2 separate regions of the Homo sapiens genome follow, and region 2 is linked to region 1. The links come from fine-mapping of genetic effects on gene expression. A gene starts in region 1. The other region holds a variant in brackets. All regions are shown on one strand. Distances are between the middles of the regions.

The links. PIP is the estimated chance that this variant, and not a neighbour inherited with it, causes the effect.
Region 2: its variant is fine-mapped to the expression of CANT1 in whole blood (INTERVAL, PIP above 0.99).

What each region holds. Positions count from the first base shown.
Region 1 is chr17:79,005,960-79,016,086 of GRCh38, reverse strand. CANT1 (calcium activated nucleotidase 1) reads left to right here and starts at 6,323. Exons shown (of 5, transcript NM_001159773.2): 1 at 6,323-6,423. RefSeq lists an enhancer at 5,934-5,983 and a silencer at 6,224-6,603.
Region 2 is chr17:78,978,995-78,989,121 of GRCh38, reverse strand. It overlaps LGALS3BP (galectin 3 binding protein), which reads left to right and starts at 9,199. Exons shown (of 6, transcript NM_005567.4): 1 at 9,199-9,298. RefSeq lists an enhancer at 8,173-9,165. The variant C/TC (reference allele first, on the strand shown) is at 5,400.

The sequences.
Region 1 (10,127 bases):
GTCCTGTTACAAAAGAAAACAGATTCTTACTGCACTTATGCAAATAACTATTAATATATAGCCATAAGTTAAGAATACTCACAAATAGTTTTCAATTTTTGGAGAAATCAGGTAGAGAGAAAGAAATATGCTCCAAATTTTGTTTACAGGAGTGTATTTTACTCAACTGTTAAAAGCTGTAAAGAGTTCAAAAGAAAAGTTTGGCCGGGCACGGTGGCTCACGCCTGTAATCCCAGCACTTTGGGAGGCCGAGGCGGGCGGATCAAGAGGTAAGGAGATCGAGACCATCCTCACTAACAGGGTGAAACCCTGTCTCTACTAAAAATACAAAAAATTAGCCAGTTGTGGTGGCGGGCTCTTGTAGTCCCAGCTACTTGGGAGGCTGAGGCAGGAGAATGGCATGAACCCGGGAGGCGGAGCTTGCAGTGAGCCGAGATCACGCCACTGCACTCCAGCCTGGGCGACAGAGCGAGACTCCATCTCAAAATAAAAAAAATAAAAAATAAAAAAGTTTGCTCGACTTGGAAAACAAAACAGAAAGGAACAGCAATATTTTATGCAAAAAGTCGTAAAAAGATTATTTCAGTCTTTCATTAGTCTATACAATTAATTTCTGTTTTGCTCAATATTTAAGAACACATTAGCTTTCCAAAAGAGTCTTGGAAGCTTTTTTTTCCTCTCTATTTTAATGGCACACTTTCCAAAGTTATCAGACACTCGCATTTAAGAGTAATTGTCAGCATCCTATAGCTGGTTATAAACCTTCTTTTGAAGAGGATTAAAACAAGACAATAATTGTCTCTGAATGACAAAAAAGTCTTAGGATAGCCACAGTCAAAGATGCAATTGACAAGGAAATTTCATTACTTCTGTAGCATACAATTTTACATAACAATTATAATTATTACTGATAACATACACTAAGTCACCAATAACATACACCTAGGTCATTATAGGAATTTCCCATAATTTTAGAATGCATACCAATAATATATTTATACAAATATGGTCTAAAGAAAGCCAAACACCATTTCATACTTGATAATGCTTCCTGTATGATTTTAATATACCAAATAAGCCAAATAAGTCTCTTTTGGACTTTAGGGTTTTTACCATCTAAAATGATTAATCAGGTCAGAAAAAGACATATTTAGAATCTGATTTTGGAAAGTTCGTCAAATATCAAAAGTTTAAAACACTTGATATTATAACATAAAATTCCAGGTCACTGTAAGTCATTTATTTAGCCAAAATGTTAACTCAACAATTTAAAAAAGGCAAAAGGCTTTACTCATTGATAGAGGGAAGATTTAGCTCTTCAAACAATCTTTTCTTTCCCTTCTTTCTCCTGTAGTTTATTTAAAAGGTAAACAAAAATCTTTCATTATCTTTTAATATTACATGAAAATCTTGTTCAAGAGAGAAAGCCAAATTTCATCTTTGCATGAGTGTACTATTGATGTCAAATTCAATTCCTAGTAAAACTTTACAGACAAATTTTCCTAACTTCAATCAGTTTGACCATAATGTAAGATTTTCATAAAGCTTTTATAACCCTTTACAATTTTTTTTGTTAAAGAGTAGACCAATGCTCTAAGAAAACCCTGTTGTGCTTTTATTCCAATGTTCAATTTATGGAAAAACCAAATAATACTCCTTTAACTTTAGCCAATATGTTAACACAGAGAATTGCTTTTACAAGATTAGACTTTCACAAACCTTCCACGACTTGCTTAGACCTTCCGCTTTCTCCTATCTAAGAACAACTCTTTAAACTTCCAAACCAGGCAAAAACACCCTGCCTTCCCATGCCTTCTTATAATCTTTTACCAAACACACATTATACTTTCCTTACACACTGTGCATGTAAAAGTGTTCCTCCAGTAACCTCAGTTACATATGGTACAATGTTAACTCTTAGCAACTTTTATTTTTGGCGAAAAATTTGGTAAGTGATTTTATTTGTGTACCAGGTGTAGAGCTTGGGGCACCAGACAAAAGTGCAGATAAGGTCTGACCCCTTCCAGCATAGCTAGGGGCATGGCTAACTCCATATGTTCCCAGGCCTTACATAGACGCTAATGGCTCCAAAGAAGGTAAATTGAACAATTATCAAAAGTCAGAGAAGTAGTTTAGTAAACCTAGTATCTGACCTGCCTAATTTAGACCAAATGTCTAAATTTCAAAGACATTTTTATTTTACCAATAATCTTTAAAACTGCCTTGCTTTTCCAAAGATGACTAAAGTCATGTGAACAAAAAGGCATTAGCATTTTAATTTTTCTGGCAAAATATTTTATTTAAGTGCTTATTTTTATTTAAGCCAATTAAATAGAGCTCTTTTATATATTTTGGTTGTAAAACATGACTCACAGGGATGGTACAGACCAAGAGAAAATACCCCTCCATGGTCACAAGTCAAGCTCCCAAGGACATAAAACAAGACGAGGGGGAATCCTCATCCAGTTTTTGTTTCAGTGACCTGAAGCAAAGTTGTCAACTGACCAGTTTGCTGGGCCAGCTTGAATAGTGGGCTTACAGGGGTCCTAGGGCCACATTCTATCCTATGATACCCCTTTTATGACAGAATGACACAGAAAGCCAAATTCATAGCACAAAGTACACCAGATTCATCACAGCCTAAGACTAGCCTCACAAATCCTTTTTCCCATTCATCAAAACCTTGCAGAGGAGACAGTGATTTTTACCATTCACTCAACTGGTTTGCATAGAGAGAGAGAGACCAAAGGCCTGACTGGTAAGAAATTCTTACCCTTTTGCCAGCATGCCAGGTTTCTGGGATCCCTTTCCCTAAGCAGCCCTCGTGACCCTGCTCACAGCACCATAACTGTGGGGGCCAAGCCACATCGCAAAGCAAAAATCACCCTTTTCCATTTCATGGAACCATAGGAAAAGCCTCTCAATTTTGCAAGATGCTACACAACAAGTTGCATGGAGGAATCGAATCAACATTTTCCATTCTGGCCAGAACAAAGTGCACTTGACAAAACACAGACACTAGCCACCCCCCTCAGCACCCAATATCGACCTGGCAAGGCTCAAAACTTCCCCCATTGGCCCCTGTAGTGTTTAATCCATTCAAAGTGGGGGCGGAATGACTGCCAACCAGGAGTTTCAACAGGTGGTTTTTGGGCAAGATGGAAGAGTAGATCATCACCCAGAGTGACAGAGAAGACAGACAAGGGAAAGGCGAGAACGAGAGAGAGGAAAGGGAAGGGAGAAGAGTGTTGCCTGTGGTGGGTTGCAGAGGTGAGGAGCTCACAGAAGCCAGAGAAAGACCCATCCATCACAGTGACACTGAATCAAAAGTTCAGACAGCTGCTTGTCAAAAAGGGATCTTTTCCAGCAGTCCCATCAGCTCTCAAGTTTTCCCCTTTGGGGGAGGAAAAAAAGCTCCCCAGGTCCCATGATCCTGCACATGCCTAATCTTGTCACCCACAGCCATCAGCAAAGAGGGCATGGCAAATTAATCCAAATAGAATGGCGGTTAACATCCTGCAGTGCTGAATCCATTTTTAACCAAGAGGGCTCTTACTAAGGGTGGCCTCTAACATTCTGAAGTTGAGCCTTCAACCCAAGTTTGAACAAGCATTCTTGTTCTTTACAAAGAGGGGCCTCTAACTCCCTGTGTCTTAGGAGGGACTCTAACTCTCCTAATTTGGGCCTCTAACCCAATTCCATCCATTACCCTGGATAAAATACCCCACCATGTACCCAAAGTTGGTCAACTGGTGCTGAAGTCTATTTCCCTTGGGTCAGAGGTCTCTCCAGTGTTGTCCCTTCATGGTTTCTCAGCAAGATGTTATCAGAAAGGGGTTCCAGTCCAGGCCCCAAGAGAGGGTTCTTGGATTTTCCACAAGAAAGAATCTGGGGCAAGTCCGCAGAGTAAAGTGAAAGCAAGTTTATGAAGAAAGTAAAGCAATAAAAGAATGGCTACTCCATGGGCACAGCAGCCACAAGGGCTGCTGGTTGGCTATTTTTATGGTTATTTCTCGCTCATATGATAAACAAGGGGTGGATTATTCATGAGTTTTCTGGGAAAGGGGAGGAGATTTCCTTGGAACTGAGGGTTCTTCCCCGTTAGAACATCTAGGGTAACTTCCTGACGTTGCCATGGCATTTGTAAATCATCATGGTGCTGGTGGGAGTGTCTTTCAGCATGCTAATACATTATAATTAGGGTATAATTAGCAGCAAGGACAGCCAGAGGTCACTTTCATTGCCATCCTGGATTTGGAGGGTTTTGACCAGCTTCTTTACTGCATCCTGTTTCATCAGCAGGGTCTCTGTGACCCGTATCTTGTAACCTCCTATCTCATCCTGTGACTAAGAATGCCTAATTTCCTGGGAATGCAGCCCAGCAGGTCTCATTTACCCAGCCCTTATTCAAGATGGTGTTGCTCTGGTTCGAAGGCCTCTGAGAGAGCCACTGGATCTCTCAATTATTGCATACAGTTTTATTTCATTTTATAAAGGTTAAAATAGACAGAATTAAACAATATATTGTTTAGGGATACATACCTATGTGCTAAAATTATAAAGTAAGGCAACAGAATGATTAACACAACATTCAGTATTGTGGCTACCACCTCTTGGGGGTAGCAGGGAGTACAGAACAGGAAGAACCTGGAGAGTTTTAAAGATGCAGGAATAATGTGTTATTTCTTAAGCTGGAAGGCACATGTGGATCTTTTAGAAAATAAAAGATTCAAATATAATTGTCACATGCGTCCATGTGAAGAGATTCCACCAACGGGCCTTGTGTGAGCAACAAGACTGTTTATTTCACCTGGGTGCAAGTGGGCGGAGTCCGAGAAAGGAGTCAGCAAAGAGTAGTGGGATTATCATTAGTTCTTATAGGTTTGGGATAGGTGGTGGAGTTAGGAGCAATTTTTTGTGGGCAGGGGGTGGATCTCACAAAGTACATTCTCAAGGGTGGGAAAAATATTACAAAGTACCTTCTTAAGGGTGAGGGAATATCACGAAGTACATTATCCTAAGGGTGGGGAGGGTGTATTGTCATAAGGTCAATTGATCAGTGAGGGTGGGGCAGGAACAGATCACAATGGTGGAATGTCATCTTTTGTGGTTCTTCAGTTGCTTCAGGCCATCTGGATGTATATGTGCAGGTCACAGGGGATATGATGGCTTAGCTTGGGCTCAGAGGCCTGACAATAATGAGTATTATGTGAGACATGGTTGGGACTCAGTTTAGCATGACAAGAAACATTAATGAATTCAAGAAAGGTTTGTCTCCTCTCCAAAATCAAAAACCAAAAGTGCATAACAGTGTTTAGCACATTTCTATTTAGTTAAAGGTAATTTAAGATACGTGTTTATGACTTGTTTGGATACCATATAACATCTAGTGATCGCCTCTGGGCAGGGAATACAGAACGGCAATGGGAGGCTTATTTTTCATTGCGTACCATTTATATAATTTGAATTCCTCCTCTTGTGTATCTTTTACTGAACGGAAGGTTTTGAGAGAGCTGGGGGAAGTAGCTGGTATCAAGCAGGAAAGCTGAAGGTGCAGATGGGCAGGGGGCTGGTGCACCCTTCTGCCAAGCTCTCCTGCCAGAGGCTCCACGGCCACCAGGCCTTTCTCAGAACTTTGGGATGGAGGAGGGCGGGGCCGGGGAAGCCTTTTAACAGAGTGCCCTAAAATATCTCGGGGGCTAGGGCTACGGAGGGGAAAGGAGAAATCAGAGACCCTTGTTTGGCAGGTTTGTCAACTGCAGATTTTTTGCAGGGAAACACCCCACCGTCCCCACCCCAGGACACTACAGCCTTAGACCTCCCTGATCCTGGCTTTGGCAACTGGTCAGCAGCACTCTGGAGGCGGCTGTTTTGAAGGGCCAAGGAGAGGGGCTGCCTGAGAATGAGGATGGCAGAAAGGGGCCCACGGTTTTCCGCCTCCCAAGACTACGAGGGTCGGGAGGCCCATGTAAGGGGGCCCTCGCTCGGAGAATGAGAACTTCCCTCCCTAGTAGCCTTCACCCCCCTCAATGCCTCCCACCCCAAAAGATCTGCTGGGCCCACGTTCCAGCGCAACGCGGTGGAAGACGGCCCTCATGTGCCAGTGCGGACCCTCGCGCCCCTCCAGCCTGCAGCCAGCCGGCCGCTCCTCCAGCGCGCAGGCGCAGGACGGAAAAAAAAAACACAAAAAAACAACAAAAAAAAAACCCAAAAAAACACAAACCACAGCTCCCAGCAGCCCTCGCGCCGTCCGCGCGCAGCCGCAGAGCAGAGGCTGCCGGGAACGCGGGCCCAGAGGCGGGGCGAGCGCGCGCGGGGCGGAAGTCGGCCACCTTCCTCCGTCCCGGCCGTTAGCCCAGCCAAGCCCAGCCAAGCCCAGCCAAGCCCCGCCGATCGCGGGCACCGGAGCCAGCCCCGCAGCGGGTGAGTGACTGCGCCCGCGGCCGCCGGCGCCCTGCCCCAGCCACGGGCCCGGACCCCCGTCCCGGAGCCTGCCGCCGCCCTCCGACCCTGCCGCGTCCCGCCCCCTGACCCGTCAGGCCCCCTTCCCGTCCCACCCGTGCGGGATCTCTGCCCCCTGACTCGCAGACTGGGCTGGGACTCTGCCCTCTGACCTGTGGGAAAGTCCCCTTCTTCCGACAGGCGGTGGACACCACCCCCTCTGACTTTTGGGACACCTCATCCCTGGGACTAGCGTGGGGACCATTACCCTCTGGTTAGTGTGGGCACCCCTCCTCTCTAATTAGTGTGGGGACCATTCCCCTCTGATTAGTGTGGGCACCTCCCCCCTCTGATTATGTGACTCCTCCCCGCTCTGATTAGTGTGGGACACCCCCCTTCTAATTAGTTTGGGGACCATCCCCCTCTGATTACTGTGGGGCACCTCCCCGCTCTGATTAGTGTGGGGACCACCCCCCTCTGATTCATGTGGGGCACCTCCCCCTCTGGTTAGTGTGGGGACCATCCCCCTCTGATTAGTGTGGGACGCCTCCCCGCTCTGGCTAGTGTGGGGCACCCCTCCTGGGAATGACCCCCTCCCACCACCTTCTGACTTCAAATACCCCTCCTCTGGTCTATGCAGGGTCTCCTTGGACTGATAAGGGAATTTTCTCCCTCTGACTGGCACTTGGTCAAACCTGTAACAGGCCAACCTTCCCCACCCCATCCCAGTCCTTGCTCTCCCTGCCCTCATCCAATTTGGAGCCTTCCTCCAGGCACACAGCTCACTCTCATCTTCCTGCATGCAAATGATTCGCCCTCCCCACCATACCTGTCTCACACCCCTACTGCCATCCGGTCTGGATTCTCTCATCCTTGGAGACTGGTACCTCCTTGCCAGTCCATGTTGCCTGGTGCCTTTGCTTCTCCCTCCGAATGGTCTTTCCCTTGCCCTCTGTGTACCCTAGGCTTGGCACAGAGCACCTGTGACCACTCTTCCATCAGCAGACACATCTCTCTCCCAAACACCTTTCCCCCTTAGTGACCCCTGGAAAAGCCGTCTCTTAGTGTCCCAGCTCCATTTCTTATTTTATTCTTGAGGTTGTATGCCCTATGGCCTTTCCTACCACATTTTCAACAAAGCAGAGGTTTGGAAATGTGAGGCTCTTGGTGTCAAGTGAATCCGGCTAGCTCTCCAGTGTAAGGGCCCAAACTTGAAACAAGTGTCAGGTCGTAGAAGGCTCCTAAAAGGAAGCGGGTGCCGCAGCCCTTCAGGATCCGCTATCTCCCAGCTCTTCCTCCCTCTCCCTCTGAGGAGCTTTGCTGAGAAAGGTCCCTCCAGGCCTGGACCACAGACCCTCCCTGCAGCCCCACCGCAGGCCTCTCAGCAGGACAGTCTGGCTGGAGCCTGTGGAACGGCAGTGGGGCTCCTCCCAGGTGCTCCTCCCTGCTGGCCTCAATGAGCCCTCTATCCTAGCACACGCCCCTGCTGAAAGGCACACTGAAGGAGCCAACCCTCTCCCCTCTGGACGTGGCAAGGGTTTCCTGTCGGGGCAGCCCCAGGCATCTTCACGGCCAGGACTCAGGTGAAGCATGGATTTGTCCAGGCACTGTCATGAGGCCACCGCAGCAGTGTGGGGACCAACTTCTAGTGTCACTTTTTCATGTCCAAATTAACGTGATCACAAAAGAGAATGACATGTCACAAGGTGGTAGAGGGAACCCTCCACTCGCAGCGGGATAGGACCCCTGGACCCTGGGACACCTCGCTGGAGGGGCACATCTGAGGCTTGACGCTTCTGATTGCCAGAGGTCTCCTTTCTTCCCCTTAGGCTATAACCATATTTTCCTAGCCCATGGCAGCTTAGTAAATGTGTTGGTGTAAAAGCTCTTGGTACTCCAGAACGTTTTCACTCACCCGTCACTGTGCACCTGGTCTGCAGGACCCCCCTGAGCTGCAGAGTACGTGAGGAGACCCAGGGTGTGGTAGCAGCAGTTCTCCTGGCCCTGTGGGTGTTTTTACCCTGCCACCTGGATGTGGCTTTCGAGGTGTGTGTGCCTGTGCAGGCTCCCCCAAGTACATATGGCCCGTCCTCGGAGTCTCGGTACTTTCTGGCAACCGTATAGGTAGATAGGTAGATGTATAAATGCTGTAGTGTTTTCTCTTTCAAAAACAGAAGATCTGAGACTTGGAACTATTGTCCAGGTCCTGAAATGGGTCAGTACTATCACAAGGAGGTCATTTTTCTATTGTTTGTTGAATGGTACCAGGGATGCCAAGGACACACAGCATTCATTCTTTTCACTCAGTGCACTCTGAACTATCGAGATTTCCTGGAAAGCTCTTATGAAATGCCAATATCAAGGGAATTAGAAACTTTTATATTAATTCTTAAGAATGTTCATGTTGATTTTCCTTTTACTTTAATCAAGATGGTTAATTAGGAAAAAATCATCCTGGCAGTAGAGAAGTCTGTTTGGGGAGACGTTCTGTTTTTTGTTTTGGACCCTGCTCGTCTTTGTCATGCGTGCAGTGGTCATGTGGAGCGCCTGGTTCCCAGGCAGGACGCTGCTCCCCGCGTTCCTCTGGGATGGTTTTATGGGAAGTGAAGAAGGCGTTGAAGTCTGGCTTAAGACTTAAGACAGTGCGTGATGCCACCATGTGGGAGTGGGGCAGAGGTGAGACTGGGACCCCCCAGAATGGCTCTGAGGGTGTTGCCGGGTTGAGTGAAAGTCCTGGCGATTCGGCCTTTGTGTCCCGGGAGCCGAGCCTGGAGGAAAGCGTGAGGAGAGAAGGTGGCAGTAAGCAGGTGGGCTCGTGCAGGTGCCACCGCGGTGTGGAAGGCAGCCCTGATCCAGGTCCATGGGGCGATGATCCCATCCCGTTATTTTCACACACTCTGGAAAAGGACACCTTCCCAGATGTGTGGTGCCATTTGGAATGTGCCTTTCAACTGAGAAGGTCGCCTTTTGGCTAAAATTCCTCCAGGTGTAACATCGATGATACAAATTAAGCAGACACAGCCTCTTTACAAGGCAGTAACTGCAAACCGTAGAGGGTTCTGAAGCTGTGCGCCCACACCATAGACAGTGACTGGTCCTGGCCCTTGGAAAAACCTGGAGGCTCTTTCCCCTCTTCCTCCTGTGATTGGTGGAGGAACAGCTCCCCGAGATGTCCACGTCCTACCTTCTGAGCCTGTGAATATGTTACATTACATGGCAAAGGGGAATTAAGGTTGCTGATCAGCCGGCCTTAAAGTAGTGAGATGATCCTGGATTTTCCCAGGGAGCCCAGTGTAATCACAGGGTCCTTAAGAACAGAAGAGGGAAGCAGAAGAGCCGGAGGGAGATGATGGCCAAGAGCCTTGGGGAAGTGCAGTGGGCGGGCTTTGGAGGGGGAGGAGGGGCCACCAGGCAGGGAATGTGGGTGCCTCCAGAAGCTGGAAGAGGCATGAGAATGGAGCCATGGCCCGTGTGAGGCTTCTGTCCCACAGGACGGTGCCTGCTGCCTGCCGTGTGCTGGATACTAGGGGCGGGGACAGGTGCAGAAGTCAGTCAGATCCTGAGCTTGACCTTTAAGGAGCGTGCTGTCTGTGGAGGCAGGATGGCCTAACCAGACTCCCTGTGACCTTCTTCCTTTCTGGTTTCCTTGTACTGCCCACCCCCGAGGAGATTTGCCGTGGAATTTG
Region 2 (10,127 bases), 27 kb after region 1:
TAGTCCCAGCTACTCGGGAGGCTGAGGCAGGAGAATGGCATGAACCCAGGAGGCAGAGCTTACAGTGAGTCGAGATCGCGCCACTGCACTCCAGCCTGGGTGACAGAGCGAGACTCCGTCTCAAAAAAAAAAAATAAATAAAAATAAAAAATAAAAAAAGAATCCTTAGCACAGATTAGCAAGCCAAATTCAGCAATAATCAAAAATTAGAATGTTACCGGAAAGGGGTCTGATTCAGGTCACCAAGAGAGGGTTCTTGGAGCTCACACAAGAAATAATTCTGGGCACGTCCATAGAGTAAAGTGACAGCAAGTTTATTAAGAAAGTAGGCCAGGTGCGGTGGCTCACGCCTGTAATCCCAACACTTTGGGAGGCTGAGGCAGGCAAATCACGAGATCAGGAGTTGGAGACCAGCCTGACCACATGGTGAAACCCCATCTCTACTAAAAATATAAAAATCAGCTGGGCGTGGCGGTGCATGTCTGTAATCCCAGCTACTCAGGAGGCTGAGGCAGGAGAATCGCTTGAACCTGGGAGATGGAGGTTACAGTGAGCCGAGATCGCGCCACTGCACTCCAGCCTGTGCGATGGAGTGAGACTCCATCTCAAAAAAAAAAGTAAAGGAATAAAGAATAGCAACTCTAAAGGCAGAGTAGCTCCAGGGCTGCTGACTGTCCCTTTTTATGGTTATTTCTTGAGGATATGCTAAACAAGGGGTGGATTCTTCATGCCTCCCGTTTTTAGACCATAGAGGGTAACTTCCTCATGTTGCCATGGCATTTATCATGGTGCTTGCAGGAGCATAGCAGTGAGGACAGCCAGAGGTCACTCTCATCGCCGCTTGATTTTGGTGGGTTTTAGCCGGCTTTACTGCAGCCTGTTTTGTTGTTGTTGTTGTTTTTGAGATGGAGTCTCATTCTGTTGCCCAGGCTGGAGTGCAGTGGCACAATCTCAGCGCACTGCATCCTCCGACTCCCAGGTTCAAGCGATTCTCCTGCCTCAGCCTCCCGAGTAGCTGGGATTACAGTCGTGCGCCACAACACCCTGCTAATTTGTATATTTTTAGTAGAGATGGGGTTTCACCATGTTGGCCAGGCTGGTCTCAAACTCCTGACTTCGCGATTCGCCTGCCTCGGCCTCCCAAAGTGCTGGGATTACAGGTGTGAGCCACTGCGCCCGGCCAGCCTGTTTTATCAGCAAGGTATGACCTGTATCTTGTGCCAACCTTCTGTCTCCAGTGACTAAGAATGCCTTAACCTCCTGGGAATGCAGCCCAGCAGGTCTCAGCCGTAATTTACCCAGACCTGGTTCAAGATGGAGTGGCTCTGGTTCAAACGTCTCTGACAAGAATACTTCACGATAGGTGTGGTTTATTCTAGGAATACAGGGTTAGTTCAGTATTCTGAAATCAATCAATGAAATTCATATGAAGACTAAAAAGGGGCAGGGTGTGGTGGCTCATGCCTGTAATCCCAGCACTTTGGGAGGCTGAGGTGGGCATTTGAGGTCAGGAGTTCGAGACCAGCCTGGCCAACATGGTGAAACCCCGTCTCTACTAAAAACACGAAAAATTAGCTGGGGGTGGTGGGGCGCACCTATAGTCCCAGCTACTTGGGAGGCTGAGGCAGGAGAATCGCTTGAACCTGAGAGGCGGAGGTTGCAGTGAACCGACATCATCCCATTGCTCTCCAGCCTGGGCGACAGAGCGAGACTCCATCTCAAAAAAAAAAAAAAAAAAAAAAAAGACTAAAAAGGGGGAAAAGCATGATAATCTCAAAAGATAGAGAAAAAGCATTTGACAGAATCTAACAGCCATTCACCCAATCCAATTCTAAACAAAAAGCCAAAAAACCCGTTAGGGAACATCCTTAACCCGATGAAGGGCTCCGGTGAGAAGTCCACAGCTAAGCTCCTACTTCACGGTCAGACACTGAATGCCTTCCCCCTGAGGAACAACGCAAGAGTGTCTGCTTTCACCACTTTCTTCCCCACCATTTTTTCCTTTGAAATAAAATTTTGAACCACACAGAAGTTGCAAAAATACAGTAGGTCCTATGAAAGGAAAATAAAAACCGCAATGCACCCTTCCAATAGGAAAAAACAGGAAGCTGAGAGCTGAGTCATGCAAGCAGCTGCCTTTCCTCTTGTTCCTAAGCAGAGAGCGACAGAGGAAAGGCTAAAGACCTCGGCAGGTAGCTACTGTGCTCACCTTATCTTATGTGAAGTGCCAATTTACTGAGCACCAGATGAATACACGATTGACTGTTCCCCTGCCTGCTTCTCTTCTCTTGCAACCCGTGGCGGCAGCACTAGGACCGGACCCTCCCACTTCCCCCTCCAGCCTGCTTTTCCCCTTTAAATATGGAAGCCCTCAAAGTCACCTTTGGAGAAAGGCACAGACCACAGACTGTTTCAGCGATTCCGTGTTTTGTCACGTTTTGTTTTGCCTCCCTGGCCTTATCCTTGACCTTGGCAAAATTAACTGGTTGAGAACAGTCTCAGATACTTTTTGGTTCATATCCCCCTTCTGTGGGGGATACATTCCAAGACCCGCAGTGGATGCCTGAAACCATAGATAATGTGGAATTTACTGTTCTACATTCATACCTGCGATAAAGCTTAATTCATAAATTAGGCACAGTAAGAGATTAACAGTAACATAGTAAATAGAACAATTAGAACAATAGTCTAAAATAAGAGTTATGTGCATGTGGTCTCTCTCTAAATATCTTAGTGTACTGTACTCGCCCTTGTGATGAAGAAGGGAAAGAGCAGGATGACACAATATTTCATCCCACTAGGAACAGTATGCAATTTAAAACTTATGAATTATTTCTGGAATCTTCCATTTAATATTTTCAGACCTCAGTTGACCGTGGGTAACTGAAACTGCAGTAAGTGAAACTGCAGATAAGCGGGGCCAGCAGTCGTGTTTCTGTGCAGCATTCATGTGGCTCCCTCCAGTGTACTGATTACCTAAGCACAGTACATTTACCAAACCCAGGAAACTGACATTGCTCTCATCACTTTTATTCCTCATCCTATTGGTGCAAAAGAAAAAAAAAGGAAGTTATTCAGATTTGAAAAGAAGGAATAGAACTATCTTTATTCGCCAGTGACAAGCTTTGACTAGCTAGACAAGCCTAAGAAATCTTCAAAAAATAACTACGAGGCTAGGCATGGTGGCTCACGCCTTTAGTAATCCCAGCACTTTGGGAGGCTCAGGCAAGAGAATCACTTAAGCCCAGGAGTTCAAGACCAGCCTGAGCAACATAGCAAGACCCTGTCTCTACAAAAAAATGTAAAGATTAGCTGGATGTGGTCACGCCTGCCTGTGGTCCCAGCTACATGGGAGGCTGAAGTGGGAGGATCACTTGAGCCCAGGAGATTGGGGCTGCAGTTAGCAGTATTTGTACGACTATACTCCAGCCTGGGTAACAGAGCGAGACTCTGTCTCAAAAAAACCACGAAACTACACATACTAAATTTAATATATTAATATTTAATATATATTAATATGTTAAATTTAATACATTAATATTTAACATATTAATATATTAATTCCACATACAAAATTTAACTTTATTATAACTGCAGTGAACAACTAGAAATTGTAAAATTTTTAAACATTGTCAATTACAGTAGCACCAAAAATCGGGAAATAGTTACGTATAAGTCTAACAAAAGATGTGTGACATCTACATCCTGAAACTACAAAACACTGATGAAAGAAATCAGAGACTCAAAAGAACAAAACAGTATACGTCTTCATGGGTCTACAGACTTGATTTTGAAAAAGAAAAGCAAAGTTGAAGGACTTATACTATCTGGCTTCAAGACTTAATATAATGCTGTAAGTAATCAAAACAGTGTAGTATTGCCATAAGAAAAACAGACACCGACAAGTGAGACAGAATAGGGTCCAGAAATAGACCCTTATGGATGTGGCCCATTGACTTTTGACAAAAGAGCCAGGGTAATTCACCTGAAATACAAAAGACTGTCTTCCCACCATGGTGCTGGGACAACCCTGTGAACCCTGAAAATTTGAGACAGGCCTCAGTTAATTTACTTTATTTTATTTATTTATTTATTTATTTGGGACAGAATCTCTCTCCTGACAGGCTGTAGTGCAGTGGTGTGATCTTGGCTCACTGCAACCTCTACCTCCCAGGTTTAAGTGATTTTCCTGCCTCAGCCTTCCGAGTAGCTGGGATTACAGGTGTGCACCACCACACCCAGCTCATTTTTTATATTTTCGGTATTGATGGGGTTTCACCATGTTGGCCAGGCGGGTCTTGAACTCCTGACCTCAAGTGATCTGCCCTCCTCACCCTCCCAAAGTGCTGGGATTACAGGCGTGAGCCACCGCGCCCAGCCGGGCTCAGTTAATTTAGAGTTTATTTTGCCAAGGTTGAGGACGTGGGCGCCCCTGACACAGCCTCAGGAGGGCCTGGCAGTGTGTGCCCAAGGTGGTCAGGGCACAGCTTGGTTTTATACATTTTAGGGAGATATAAGACATCAATCAACACATGTAAAATGAACATTGGTTCAGTCTGGAAAGGCAGGACAACTCCAAGTGGGGAGGGGGCTTCCAGGTCACAGGTAGATGAGAGACAAATGGATACATTCTTTTTTTTTTCTTTTGACGGAGTCTCTCTCTGTCGCCCTGGCTGGAGTGCAGTGGCGCAATCTCGGCTCACTGCAACCTCTGCCTGCCGGGTGCACACCATTCTCCTGCCTTAAAGTTGAAGTCATTTGTTCCCACAGAGAACAGAGTTGTGAAAGGAAAATATCTTGGGCCCCAAAATCACCAGCTAAAGGGAAAAGTCAAGCTGGGACTGATTAGGGCCATCCTGCCTCCCATTCTATTCAGTCACCCTCTGCTCACCAGGCGTGGTGGCTCACGCCTATAATCCCAGCACTTTGTGGGGCGGAGGTGGGTGGATCACGAGGTCAAGAGATCGAGAACATCCTGGCCAACATGGTGAAACCCCGTCTCTACTTAAAAAAATACAAAAAATTAGCCGGCATGGTGGCGGGCGCCTGTAGTCCCAGCTACTCGGGAGGCTGAGGCAAGAGAATGGCTTGAACCCGGGAGGCGGAGCTTGCAATGAGCCGAGATCGCACCACTGCACTCCAGCCTGGGCGACAGAACGAGACTCTGTCTCAAAAAAAAGAAAAAAAAAAAAAGATAATGAAAAGCAAGCTTTTCATTAAAAATAAAAGTGCAAATCATATATCTGCTACAGGAACAGAATATATATAAAGAACTTACACAACAAACAAGCCAGTTTTCAAACGTGCATAAGATTTGAACAGACGCTTTGCCAAAGAGGATGTGTGAATGACAGAGAAGCATAAAGATGCTCAACATCATTCGTCTTTTTTTTTTTTTT[C/TC]TGTTTTTTTGAGACGGAGTTTCACTCTTGTTGCCCAGGCTGGAGTGCAATGGCACGATCTCGGCTCACTGCAACCTCTGCCTTCCAGGTTCTAGTGATTCTCCTGCCTCAGCCTGCCAAGTAGCTGGGATTACAGGCATGCGCCACCACGCCCGGCTAATTTTTTTGTATTTTTTAGTTGAGATGGGGTTTCTCCATGTTGATCAGGCTAGTCTCAAACTCCTGACCTCAGGTGATCTGCCCACCTCAGCTTCCCAAAGTGCTGGGATTACAGGCGTGAGCCACAGCACCCGGCCTATCATTCGTCATTATAACCACAATGAAACTTCACTACATGCCCACCAGAATGGATGAAATTTAAAGACTGACAATACCAAGTATTGGTGACGATTTAAACCACTGGAACATGAAGAAATTACTAGCAAGAATGCAAAATGTTTCAGCAACTTTGGAAAACAGTTTCTTTTCTTTTTTTTTTTTTTGAGACGGCATCTCGCTCTGTTGCCCAGGCTGGAGTACCGTGGTGTGATCTCGGCTCACTGCAACCTCTGCCTCCTGGGTTCAAGCGATTCTCCTGCCTCAGCCTCCCGAATAGCTGGGATTACAGGCGCCTACCACCATGTTTGGCTAATTTTTGTATTTTTTTGTAGACACGGGGTTTCACCATCTTGACCAGGCTGGTCTTGAACTCCTGACCTCGTGATCTACCCACCTCAGCCTCCTGAAGTGCTGGGTAGTTTCTTAAAAAGGTAAACATATATCTACCATATGACCCAGTAATCCTGCTCCTAGGTATTTACACAAAATAAATACTTATTTTCACACAAAGACTTGTATCCAAATGTTTCCAGCAGCTTTATGCATAATAGTGGAAGATGGAATGACCCAAATGTCCATCAGTGCAAACATGTATTAACAGTGGTGTTCTGTCCATACAGTGGGCCGCCACCCAGCAAAACCAGGAGCCAGTTACTGATTGTTGAGATAGCATGGATGGATCTCAGAAGCACTGTGGTAAGTAAAAGAAGCCACATGCAAAATATTAAATACTGTATGATTCCATTTAGAGGGAATTCTAGGGTCCAGGAGTGGTGCCTCATGCCTGTAATCCCAGCACTTTGGGAGGCAGAGGCAGGCGGATCACCTGAGTTCAGGGGTTCGAGGCCAGCCTGGCCAATGTGGAGAAACCCCTTCTCTACTAAAAATACAAAAATTAGCTGGGCGTGGTGGTGGGCGCACCTGTAATCCCAGCTACTCGGGAGGCCGAGGCAGGAGAATCACTTGGACCTGAGAGGCAGAGATTGCAGTGAGCCGAGATTGTTCCACTGCACTCCAGCCTGGGCAATGGAGGGAGACTGTGTCTTAAAAAAGAAGACAAAATAGAGGGAATTCTAGGAAAGGCAACCAGCAGTGGCAGAAGCTGAGAGGTGGTTGCTGGGAAGGGGCTGGGGGGAGGGGTGGCTGCAGAGGGGCATAAGAGAATTCTTAGGGGTGATTGAAACGCCCTAGGTAATGATTGTTGTCATGATACCATCGCTACACATTTGCCAAAACTTTGCACGTAAATTATATGCCAAGAAAGCCAATTTTTAAAAAGAAGGAAAGGATGGGTTTGAAACCCCAGTTCTTCCCCTACCAGCTGCACAACTTTAGCCGATTACGTCGCCTCACTGAGCCTCTGTTTTCTCATCTGTAACAGGGAATATAAGAGCAGCTGCTTCCCATCATGGCTGGAAGTATTAAATGCATTCATTTGTGGCAAGGCTTATAGTAATGCCTGGCGAAATCCATATTAGCTATTATAGGGAGCGTTCCTCAATTTGCGGAGAGGTTTGGGGTAGAGGCACAAAAGATGACCTTACAGGCCAGTTAACCATTCTCATCTCTGAAATGCCCCGCACTTTCCCTACCATGTCTTGGGAGCGGCTTCCTGATGACAGCAGTTCTGTCCACACGAATCTGAGGCTTTCACCCAGCTGTCTTCTCAGAGCCGAGCCGCTGCCCCTTCCCCTGCCTGTCCCCTGTCAGCGCTTCCCTCCACCCCATGGTCATCGCACACCGGAAAGGCCTTGCGAGCCCCAGGGGAGCAGATGTTGGTGCTCCGATTCCACGAGGAGGCCTCTGGGTTTTCCATTTTACCTGCCTGGATGGCTTAGGACTTTCCCGGACTCTGGGGCTAAAGATTCGGCACCTGAGTTTTAAAACCTTTCCCAGCACTTCCCAGAGATGCCCTCCCGTCCTCTGCACTCCTGTCCTTCCCTGGCCACTTGGGCAGAAGTCATTAGCACTGCTGAGAAGGGATGATGCTGGGGTTTCTGTGCACTCAGGCCCTTAATCCAGATGAGATTTTTTTAAACTCCCCACAGCCAGTTCTATTTCCAGCTGCACCTGCCCCTGGATCTTCACAGTTCCTCTGGAGGGGATTAGGCAAACCGTGCAGCTGCCTAAAACCTCACACCTTGAAGGAAATAGTCATTGAATGTCTGACCTCTGGGCTGGCTGTCTCGGACTCTAAGCTGCCAGGGAACCAGGGCCTTCCACCCAGTGGGACTGCCTGGGGGCTTTTAAATGCCCCTGCCTGTCCCCTACTCCCAGAGATGGTGACTTCCTGGGTCTAGGCATTAGGAGTTTGTAAAACTCCCTGATGATTCTTCTGTCCAGCCCAGGCTGAGAACCACTGGTCAGAGGCCTGGGCACATCCCAAGGCTCATCCAGAACCATGGGGTGCAAGTGACAGAAACAAGAGCGGCTGCTGATTGCCTCACTGAGCGGTGAAGCCCAGCCTTGACCATGGATTAGGCCAGCTGGACCCAGGAGCTCAGGCCGGAGGATGCCTGCTTCCCTCTGCTCTGCCCCACCGGCCCCAGCAGCCTGGGCCCACATCCTCTCAGTCAGAAGCTGGCTCTCACCGGCTGGCTGGGCTCACAGCCCCACCCTGAAACCAGCAGTGTGGCCCGGGGCCCCCGCAGGGCTCAGACAGCCAGGCCTTGGGTGGTTGAAGGCCAAGAGCTGGGGGCCCTCTGGGAACCACACAGCCGGGAATGGGAGGGGGTGCTCCCCAAGGGACAGTTGAGGTGCCGGCTTTCAGTGGGAGGAAAGGGAATGGGTATGAGCTGGACAGAGCCATTATGTCACCCAGAGAGGCTCTGTCCCCCGCCCCGCTGAGGGGGAGACAGTAGGAGAGTGGCCACAGGTCCAGCAGTGGCGAGCACAGGCTCTGGGGTCAGGTGTTGGAGCAGGGTCCAGCTCCTCCACTGGCCAGCTGCATACCTGGTTCTCAGTGCCTCCCTCCCCTGGGGACAGGGGACAGTGCCATGCAACCTTGTGGGGCACAGGCCCTCTGTGTGGTCAGCATGCCAAGAGCACAGAGAGGGTGGATTTGCACATAAGCAGCCCCCTGTGTGGTGTTCACCCAGCCAGCAACGTGCTAGACCCAGGAAAAGACTCGGAGCGCTCTGTCAGAGTCCACAGCCACACCACCAGGTGCAGACTGTCTGGGCCCAGAGCCTCTGCTTCTTCCCCTCCCGTCCACCAAACGCCAGCCCCTGACCAGCCTGGCGGCCTTTCCAACTGAGTGTGGCTGTTAGTCCTCTTGCAGGCCTTGCTCCAGCCAGACTCCCACCTTGGGCCTCTGCCAGCCTGGCACTGATAGCCACAGGCAGAGCTGAGACAAAAGAGAGGGGCCCTGGGGAGTATCAGCAGCAGCCAATCCCGGAAGACATCTATGTCAGGTGGTTTCTGGAAATCGAAAGTAGACTCTTTTCTGAAGCATTTCCTGGGATCAGCCTGACCACGCTCCATACTGGGAGAGGCTTCTGGGTCAAAGGACCAGTCTGCAGAGGGATCCTGTGGCTGGAAGCGAGGAGGCTCCACACGGCCGTTGCAGCTACCGCAGCCAGGTAAGCTCCTGCCTCTAGCTCTCAGGTGGGCACCCCTCTCAGTCTCTCTCTCTTTTTTATTTTTATTTTTTTTGAGACAGGGTCTCACTCTGTCACCCAGGCTGGAGTACAGTGATGCAATGTCCGCTCACTGCAGCCTCTGCCTCCTGGGTTCAAACGATTCTCCTGCCTCGGCCTCCCAAGTAGCTGGGATTACAGGCGCGTGCCACCACGCCCAGCTAATTTTTGTATTTTTAGTAGAGACAGGGTTTCGCCATCTTGGCCAGGCTGGTCTCAAACTCCTGACCTCTGGTGATCCACCCGCCTCGGCCTCCCAAAGTGTAGGGATTACAGGTGTGAGCCACCGCGCCCGGCCAGGGCACCCCTCTCTCTACACAGGCAAGTGGGGGTCATGCCTCCCTGTTTGCACATAGGCCTGGAGCTGGGGATCCAGGGCTCCTGAGTCCAGCAACAATCATTGCTGCTCCCAGGCCCACAGGGCCTCTGTGTACAGTTGGGCAGATTACTCACTGCACAAGGATACCAGCCAAAGGGCAAGTGGGTTAGAATTCAGCTTGGCCCTCTCTCAGACCTGTGCATTTGGCCTAGGCCTGCACCCACTCCAAGGAAGAGCACCTTTTTTTCTGATTTGCACGAAGGGGCCAACACAGGCAGCCGGGTCTCAACTGTATGAAGGAATCAGGCAAAAATAGCCGCTGCCACACAAAGGGCAGCGACGCCACCTGCCAGGTGCTTCGTTGCCCCCCCCCCTTTTTTTTTTGAGACAGAGTCTTGCTCTGTCACCCAGGCTGGAGTGCAGCGGCTCACTACAATCTCTGCCTGCCGGATT